Linked DNA regions of Homo sapiens. Changing the gene in region 2 together with the main gene of any one other region gives a genetic interaction. Each region holds a gene or a part of one and is shown on either strand. Other genes may lie near its edges. The genes, in order: BAD, HRK and BAK1.

The links.
Region 1: changes in HRK (region 2) and BAD together harm fitness more than expected from each alone (negative genetic interaction), as found in Homo sapiens cells (one large-scale study listed by BioGRID).
Region 3: changes in HRK (region 2) and BAK1 together harm fitness more than expected from each alone (negative genetic interaction), as found in Homo sapiens cells (one large-scale study listed by BioGRID).

What each region holds. Positions count from the first base shown.
Region 1 is NC_000011.10:64,269,204-64,272,074, forward strand, and holds the end of BAD (bcl2-associated agonist of cell death), read right to left. Parts: intron 2,601-2,871; coding exon 2,410-2,600; intron 1,459-2,409; coding exon of another isoform or gene 1,456-1,458; exon of another isoform or gene 1,328-1,455; intron 1,135-1,327; coding exon 1,006-1,134; 3' UTR 627-1,005; downstream 1-626. Other genes in the region: integral membrane protein GPR137, read left to right, coding at 1,456-1,458. UniProt on the Homo sapiens protein: Promotes cell death. Successfully competes for the binding to Bcl-X(L), Bcl-2 and Bcl-W, thereby affecting the level of heterodimerization of these proteins with BAX. Can reverse the death repressor activity of Bcl-X(L), but not that of Bcl-2.
Region 2 is NC_000012.12:116,871,924-116,875,626, forward strand, and holds part of HRK (activator of apoptosis harakiri), read right to left. Parts: intron 1-3,703. UniProt on the Homo sapiens protein: Promotes apoptosis.
Region 3 is NC_000006.12:33,574,609-33,577,276, forward strand, and holds part of BAK1 (bcl-2 homologous antagonist/killer), read right to left. Parts: intron 1,321-2,668; coding exon 1,185-1,320; intron 834-1,184; coding exon 690-833; intron 1-689. UniProt on the Homo sapiens protein: Plays a role in the mitochondrial apoptotic process. Upon arrival of cell death signals, promotes mitochondrial outer membrane (MOM) permeabilization by oligomerizing to form pores within the MOM.

The DNA.
Region 1 (2,871 bases), on a different chromosome or scaffold from region 2:
GGGGGGGATGACCCTCACCTCACCTTCCGGTCGCAGCTCTAGCTGCCTCCTCCCTGAAGCCCTCTCTGACTGCCCTGCCGATTCCGGGCCCTCGGGAGCTTCCGCGAGCAGGGCCGTGGCGCAATGCATCTCTGTGCCCGGCACCAAGAACCGGCCCGGGTTATAGGGGGCGCCAATAAATCTTTCTGGAACGGAGCCCCCGCTCTGTCCGGGTCCCCGCATGAAGCCTCAGTTTCCAGCGACCGCGCTGCTGCCAGCCTGGCTCAGCCGCTCCCTCCCGCCCCGCGAGGTACCCGGGCGGCGCTGGCCCCGGGCCGGCCACACAGTAGCTGCTGGAAAGGGCTGACCCAAATAGGAGCGAGTGACCCTCTCTGGGGGGCCGCGGCACGGTTTGCAGAGCGCGGGATCGGGCTGCCGGCAGCGCTGCGGTCCCAATGCGCGTGCTGGGGACTTGGACCTGGGCCGCGCAGCCCAGGCCCGCGAGCCGCCGCGACCCCTTCCGTCTCTGTCGCTGGATGTCAGGCAGAGCCTAAGTTTCCCTCGTAAGACAGCGGCCTCTTTTGAAAGTATCCGTGAGAGCACTACCCCGGCCTGCCGGAGCCCCAGTCGACGCACAGAAAAGCCTCGGCGGCACAGACGCGGGCTTTATTAACATTTGGTAGTGAGCACGGCCCCCAGGGCATCGCGGGGGCTCGGGTCCCGGTGACGCAACGGTTAAACCTGGCTCGCGACTTAGCGCAGGCGCCTGGGGGAAAGCCCGGAGCCTGAGGGCGGGGCCACGGAGCCACTTCCGGCGGCTGTGGGCGGAAAACCCAAAACTTCCGATGGGACCAAGCCTTCCGTGGCTTCACACGCACCGGAAGGGAATCTGGGTCAGCCCTCCCTCCAAAGGAGACAGCACGGATCCTCTTTTTGCATAGGCCTGAGGGAAGTACTTCCGCCCATATTCAAGATGGCTGCCCAGGGCAGTGGGAACGGGTGGAGTTTCGGGATGTGGAGCGAAGGTCACTGGGAGGGGGCGGAGCTTCCCCTGCCCAAGTTCCGATCCCACCAGGACTGGAAGACTCGCGTCCAGCTGGAGCTTTGCCGCATCTGCGTTGCTGTGCCCGCGCTCTTCGGGCGAGGAAGTCCCTTCTGGTGGAGGGAGAAAAGGGTTACATGAGTTAGATTACCATGGCAGCTCGAGCCAGGCTCTCCACTTCCGTGAGCCTTCCTCTAAGTGAGATCGGGGGGGAGATAATGAAGGCCACAACTCCCAGGAGGCTCCACGCCGGGCGGTCAGGGACGCTCGCGAGGACGCATGGGCCCCCAGGAATGGGAACTGGTTAGATCCCAGGAACTCCGTGCCGGAGACGGGAAGAGAGGATGCCTAGGGCCCTAAATGGAAAGGCCAGAGCTGGAGACCTAGCACCCAGAAGATGAGACCGCAATTCGAGAATCAAAGGGCCGGGAGCGATGGTGAGCGCCTGTAATCCCAGCACTTTGGGAGGTTGAAGCGGGAGGATCCTTTGAGGCCAGGAGTTCCAGGCTGCAGTGAGCCGTGATCGCACCACTGCACTCCAGCCTGGGCGACAGAGCGCACAGGTGCCAGCAAGGAGCACAAATACCAGCATGCCTGGTCTTCCAAGAATTCGGGGAACCCAGGAGCTTTGGCCTGGAGTGGGATCTAGACTACAGATCCCAGCATGCCCTGTGAGACACACACACACACACACACACACACACACACGCCTGGAGTGGGATCTAGACTACAGATCCCAGCATGCCCTGTGACACACACACACACACACACACACACACACACACACACGCCTGGAGTGGGATCTAGACTACAGATCCCAGCATGCCCTGTGACTGACACACACACACACACACACACACACACCTGGAGTGGGATCTAGACTACAGATCCCAGCATGCCCTGTGACTCTCTCACACACACACACACACACACACACACCTGGAGTGGGATCTAGACTACAGATCCCAGCATGCCCTGTGACTCACACACACACACACACACACACACACACACACACACACACGCCTGGAGTGGGATCTAGACTACAGATCCCAGCATGCCCTGTGACTCTCACACACACACACACACACACACACACACACACACACACGCCTGGAGTGGGATCTAGACTACAGATCCCAGCATGCCCTGTGACTCACACACACACACACACACACACACCAGGCGGGGGAAGAGCTGGGGAGTGGGGGCGGGGAAGTCTTGTGACTACAAATCCCAGAATGCTCTGGAGCTAGGAAGGAACAGGACGGCTTTGGGGAGGGGTCGTGGGACTCCAGATCCGGGCGTGCCTTGGGACAAGGCAGGGACAGACCGGCGGGGGGCGGCCTGGTACTTCAGGTCCTGGCACGCTGGGGACTGGCGCTCACCTTAAAGGAGTCCACAAACTCGTCACTCATCCTCCGGAGCTCGCGGCCATAGCGCTGTGCTGCCCAGAGGTTGGGGGGCGCCGAGCGCGAGCGGCCCCGAAAGGGGCTGGGCTCCTCCCCCATCCCTTCGTCGTCCTCCGTCCCCGCGGGGTAGGAGCTGTGGCGACTCCGGATCTCCACAGCCCCAGCGCCTGCAGAGGGTCAGTGGGTAGGGGGGCGACGTTAATCTCAGCTCCTCTAAGCCCCTGGCCCTGCCTGAACCCTCCCCATCAGCTCTGCAGGCCCACTCGTGGGTCTTCCAGGGGCGCATCACAGCCCACCTCTCAGAGCCCCAGTCCCTTGTATGTGAATCGAGGGGAAGCTCAGGGGCCTTTGGTGAAGATTTAGGTTAACTTCTCATTAATCCCACGAATCCTTACCGAGTGCCAATAATGGGTGAGGCCCTGTGCCTAGCACAAAATA
Region 2 (3,703 bases):
TTTTTTCTTTGAGATGGGGGTCTCACTCTGTTGTCTGCCCAGGTTGGAGTACAGTGGTGTAATTGTAGCTCACTACAACTTCGAACTCCTGGGCTCAAGTGACTTCACAATGATGGATGGGGAATGTAAATGATGGACTAACCAAATAAAGCAATACCAACCAACTTCTAAGCATGGTGGCTCACGCCTGTAATCCCAGCACTTTGGGAGGCCAAGGCAGGTGGATCACAAGGTCAGGAGTTCGAGACCAGGATGGCCAATGTAGTGAAACTCTGTCTCTACTAAAAATACAAAAATTAAGCCAGGTGTGGTGGCAGGCACCTGTAATCCCAGCTACTCGGGAGGCTAAGGCAGGAGAATCTCTTGAACCTGGGAGGTGGAGGTTGCAGAGAGATTGCGCCATTGCACTCCAGCTCAGGCGACAGTGTGAGACTTCATCTCAAAACAAACAAACAAAAAGAAGTGTCTCATAGAAAAATATTAAGCTGTTGAACAAATGCCTGTGATATATGGAAAAGGTCAGGTTACAGATAATATATTTATAGTGATTCCAAGTCTTAAAGTACCTATCCAGCCAGGAATGGTGGTGCACACCTATAATCCCAACACTTTGGAAAACCAAGGCAGGAGGTCTTGAGCTCAGGAGTTCAAGACCAGCCTGGGCAACATAGCAAAACCCTGTCTCTACAAAAAATACAAAAATTAGCCAGGTGTGGTGGCGTGCACCTGTAGTCTCAGCTACTCAGAAGGCTGAGGTGGGAGAGTCGCTTGAGCCCAGGAGGTTAAGGCTGCAGTGAGCTACGATCCTGCTACTGCACTCCAGCCTGGGTGACAGAGTAAGACCCCGTCTCAAAAAAACAAAGAGAGAGAGAGACAGAGACAGAAACAGAGAGAGACAGGAAGAAGGAGGGACGGAAGGAAGGAAGGAAGAGAGGGAGGGAGGGAGGCAGGCAGGGAGGGAGGGAGGGAAAGAAAGAGAGAAAAAGAGAAAGGAAGAAAGAAAGGAAAGAGAAATGGCAGAAAGAAGGAAAGAAAATCACATCACTAAAGGGTCAAATCTAATGCAATGGAAAGGTAGAAAGGCTTAGAATCTGTCTGGTCTTTACATGGGAAAGGACTGCAATCTTCTGCTACTCAGACCTTCTGCTCAAAGCTGAACCTCCTTTCTCCAGAGGCAAGACTACAATTTTCTTTTTCATTTTTTTGTTTTGTTTTGTTTTGTTTTGTTTTGAGACAGAGTCTCATTATGTCACCCAGGACAGAGTGCAGTGGCACAATCATAGCTCACTGCAGCCACAAAGTCCTGGCTCAAGCAATCATCCTGCCTCAGCCTCCCCAGTAGCTGGGATTACAGGCACATGCCACCACGCCTGACTACAATTTTCTTTTATTCAGCATTTTCCAAATAGTTGCCAATGAACTTGTCATATTTTTTGTCATCAAGAAAAAGTTATTTATTTTTCTGAGACAGGGTCTCATTCTCTTGCCCAGCCTGTAGTACAGTGGTACGATTATAGCTCACTATAGCCTCAGTCTCCTGGGCTCAAGCAATCCTCCTACCTCACTCAGCCTCCCGAGTAGTTGGTAACACAGGTGCAGACCACCATACCTCACTAATTTCTTATTTTTTGTAGAGATGGGGTCTCACTATATTGCCCAGGTTAGTCTCAAGTTCCAGGGCTCAAGCAATCTTCCCACCTCAGCCTCCCCAAGTGCTGGGATTACAGGCATGAGCCACCACATCCAGCTACTTTTTAAAAAAGTAATATTATATCAAGTTTCCCAGAGCAATTAAATTCCACCCTGCCCAAGTCTCTGGCCCATGGAGCAAAGGTTCAGTGTGGGAAAGCTCTGTGGAAAGCAGCCATCTTGGATAAGCCAGTTGCCTCCCCACAGGAAAAGGAAGGAGCTTTCTCCTTGCCTGGCCAACCAGAAGTCGTAAAAGGATGCAACTTATTGATGTGGGCTAAATCAGAAATCCCCCACCCAACAGCAGGGGCACCAGTTTAGAGCAGGAAAGGAGAGGGGAGCCAGTGCTGAGTTGAATGGTGAGAGTTCTAAGGGTGATGGAAACCCAATCGATGTCCACAATGTTCCCCTGGCACTGAGGGGAGTGGGCATGAGTGAGTTGGTTCAGGGATCAGGACCTCTCAGACCTTGGCAGGAGGTGAACTGGTTTATTTCTACTAAGAGGTGAGGGCAGGGGCAAAGCCTGGGTCTCCTGTCTCTGAAAGAGTCTGGGGTCACCTGAGGGCTGTGGCTGGGACTCATTCATCTCTGCATCCCTGCATCTGGGCACCCAGCCCTGGCACCAAGCTACACTGCTTGTTTTTCTTTCCTGAAACGTACTATGCAGTCTTACCTCCGGGCCACTGGACTTAGCTCTCTCTCTTCCCAAAACACCTTTCTCGCATGTCTTCATATAGCTGGCTCCTTTCTGTCATTCAAGTCCACTATTCCCCTGGTTCCTCTTCAAAGTGTCCTGCCTTCCCTCATCACCACAGGTGAGGAGTCCCTGGGGCACTCTCTATTGTGTTACCTTTGTGTATTACCTTCAAAGCCCTGAGGAGTTTCTAAAATTATCTCTGTGTTAGATTGCATAATCCAAAGGTGGCCACTAAAATATCTCCCATTCCACATGCTATTCTAGAACCTCACCACTCCCCCATGAGGTGGAGTCTAATTCCGCCCCACCTTGAATCTGTATCAGCTTGTGACTTGCTTCTGACCCAAGTGACTTTGGAAGCTGGGACAGAAAAAGCAAAGCAGCTTCCACCTAGTTCCCTGGGGTACTTGCTTTTGGAGCTCTCAGTCACTGTGTCAGAATCCGGCTGCCATGCTGTGAGGAAGCCCAAGCCACACGAAGAGGCTGAGTATAGCTGCTCCAATTGACAGCCCCAGCTGACTCCCAGTATTAACAGCCAGACATGTAAATAAGGTTGCCTCCCCACCCATGACTCCAGTCCCCAGCCATCCTGGAGCAGAGACAAGTCACCCCCACTATGCCCTGACCAAATTCCTAACCCACAGAATGTGTGAGCATGGTCAAATATGTCAGCCTTCCATATAGGTGAGTTCCACATCCATGGATTCAACCAACCTCAGATCAAAACTATTGGAAAAAAAAATTTAAAAATAACACAAGTATAAAAAACACACATAAAAACAATACAGTATAATTAGTTACATAGCACTTACATTGTATTGGGTATTATAAGTAATCTAAAGATGATTTAAAGCCTACAGTGTGTGGGTTATATGCAAACACTACACCATTTTATATCAAGGACTTGGCATCCTTGGATTTTGGGATCCAAAGTGGGATCCTGGAACCACTCCCGCCCAGAGACAGAGGGATGGCTCTAGTTGTTTGAAGCAAAACTTAGTAGTTTTGGAGTAATTTGTTACACAGAAGTAGTAACAAGAACAATATTTACTTATTGTCTGTCTCTTCCCACTAAAATGTGGGCTCCATGAAAGCAGGGAACTCTTATGTCTTGGTCCTTCCTGTATCCACAGTGCCCTATACACAGAAGGTACTCAATAATTAGCAGTTGTATAAGTGGAAGAACCTGAATTTGGGAAACAATAGTGACTATGTTGCATAGTTTCTTTTTTTATTTTTTATTTTTTTGTAACAGAGTCTCACTCATTCTGTCGCCCAGGCTAGAGTACAGTGGCGCGATCTCGGCTCACTGCAACC
Region 3 (2,668 bases), on a different chromosome or scaffold from region 2:
TCTAAGTTCACGGACTGGATATTTCAGCTCTGAGCACTAATTCTAAAATCTATCACTTACTCCTACCTTCACCTCCAGTTTCAAATCTACTCCGACACTGACTTCCCTAACTCTGGTGGTAGCAATGGCTAACACTTTGTAAGGTGGACACTAATCTAAGCATATTTTCCCTATTTTACAAACCAGGAGACTAAGGGCTAGGAAGCTTCACGAAGGCAGTAAGTGGCAAAGCTTGGATTTGCACCCAAATATTCGGTGTCTTTAACCACTTGGATGCCAGATTATAGCAAGTAGGAGCCATTTCTAGGACCTGGCAGAGGTTAGCACCCTCACCATCTTCAGTGTGATATGTGGTTTCAAATTGGAACTATGAAGGACAGCTATGTCCCAGCTGGGCTGGGGAGCTGTGGGGGACGTCCCCACCTCAGGCCCCCTCTAGAGTCCTGATCTAACCAGTCAAGACCTTGGAGTCAGAGCTCAAAAGAGCTGTGAGCTAATGCCCAAAATACAAGTCTGGGACCCCGAAAGAGAAAAATAGGGGGCCGAGACCACATGTGAGTTCACAGCAGACATTGGACACTGACAGAAGGCTTCTCCCCATGCCAGGAGAGCATCATGCAGGCAGGGTATGGTATGGTTGTGACATGACAGAGGAGTGACTGGAGCTGGCAGGGAGGTGGCTGGGGTACCTGGTGGCAATCTTGGTGAAGTACTCATAGGCATTCTCTGCCGTGGGCTGCAGGTGCTGCAACATGGTCTGGAACTCTGAGTCATAGCGTCGGTTGATGTCGTCCCCGATGATGGCGAGCTGCCGTCCCACCTGCCCCATGGTGCTGTAGGAGCAGGAGGCATGCAGGTGAGCCAGTAACCAGGCAGTCGGGACCAGGCCCTGGCTCATGGCAGAGGGGTTCTGCCTGAGCTGTCCATGGCCCTGTGCATCCCTTCTTGGAGGTCCCTGACAGTGTTCTAAGACATGAGTGCTGGGCTCCAGGAGAAGGGGCAGGCATGGGCTAAAAAGGATACAAGGTCCTGGATGGGGGTGGGAGCCCAACATAAAAGAGGAGCAACCATGAGAGAAGGGCAAGACCCCCGAGGCCTCCCCAGCTCCCAGGACCTGCACAGAGACCCATGCGAGCTACTGCCTCCCTGAAGATGTCCTTGTGGGCCCAGCGGTTGTAGCTCACCTGCTAGGTTGCAGAGGTAAGGTGACCATCTCTGGGTCGGCAGGGGCAGCCACCCCTTCAGCCTCCTGTTCCTGCTGATGGCGGTAAAAAACGTAGCTGCGGAAAACCTCCTCTGTGTCCTGGGCTACCTGCTCCTCTGAGGATCAAAGCTGGGAGTCAGGGAGAGAGGGCCGAACCCTGGCAGCCCCATGCCTTATAGGGGATTCACTCTTCCTAAGGCCATAGCTGTCCTCACCCATGGAAAGAAATATCCCAACCAGGTGCGGTGGCTCACGCCTATAATCCCAGCACTTTGGGAGGCCGAGGTGGGCAGATCACCTGAGGTCGGGAGTTCAAGACCAGCCTGACCAACATGGAGAAACTCTGTCTCTACTAAAAATACAAAATTAGCCGGGTGTGGTGGCACATGCCTGTAATCCCACCTACTCAAGAAGAGGCTGAGGCAGGAGAATTACTTGACCCCGGGAGGCGGAGGTTGCGGTGAGCGGAGATCGTGCCACTGCACTCCAGCCTAGGCAACAAGAGCGAAACTCTGTCTCAAAAAAAAAAAAAAAATGGCCGGGTGTGGTGGCTCATGCCTGTAATCCCAGCACTTTGGGAGGCCAAGGCGGGCGGATCACGAGGTCAGGAGATTGAGACCATCCTGGCTAACATGGTGAAACCCCGTCTCTACTAAACAAAATACAAAAAATTAGCCAGGCGTGGTGGGAGGCGCCTGTAGTCCCAGCTACTCGGGAGGCTGAGGCAGGAGAATGGCGTGAACCCGGGAGTTGGAGCTTGCAGTGAGCCTAGATCACGCCACTGCACTCCAGCCTGGGCAATAGAGCGAGACTCCATCTCAAAAAACAAAACAAAACAAAACAACAACAACAAAAAAAACAAAAAAAAAAAAAAGAAAAGAAATATCCCTACTTCAGCACCTTAGCCGCCCCTAGAGCTTATGCTGTGTGGAGAGTTGTTCCGGCACTTGCATTGAGTCCTCACAGTAGCCCTGGGAGCAGGCAATCCCCAGCTGGCAGGGGGAAAATGGCACAGGGTGTCTGAGTAACGTGTGCAAGGTCATACAGCCAGAACAAGCCGGGGAACCGGGACAGTCCCGGGCATTTGGGGTCCTGAGTCTACATTAGTACATCTCAGCTCCGCAGCCCTTTGCGTGCAGGGAAATGTGGGAAACAAAATCTGAATTTGTAGCTGCGGCCCAGAAAAGTCACACAGGGAGATAGTGACAGACCTGGGACCTGATTCCCAAGTCCAGGGAACAGCCCGCCGTGAGGTGTGAGCTGGGGCTTCCCTGGCTATCCCCTGGGAAGAGGGAAGGAGGGCAGCCATCTTACTTCCTCCCCAAGTCACAATAATTGCGTTCCCTGTTGAGCAGACCTGACTGGGTGATTGGCCAGCTTACTTCCTTATTTCTCCCGCTGGAGGGATACAGCAGCCAGGCCCCACTCTAATTCCTGCCTCCCTCGCCCGTGACCCAGCCCTCT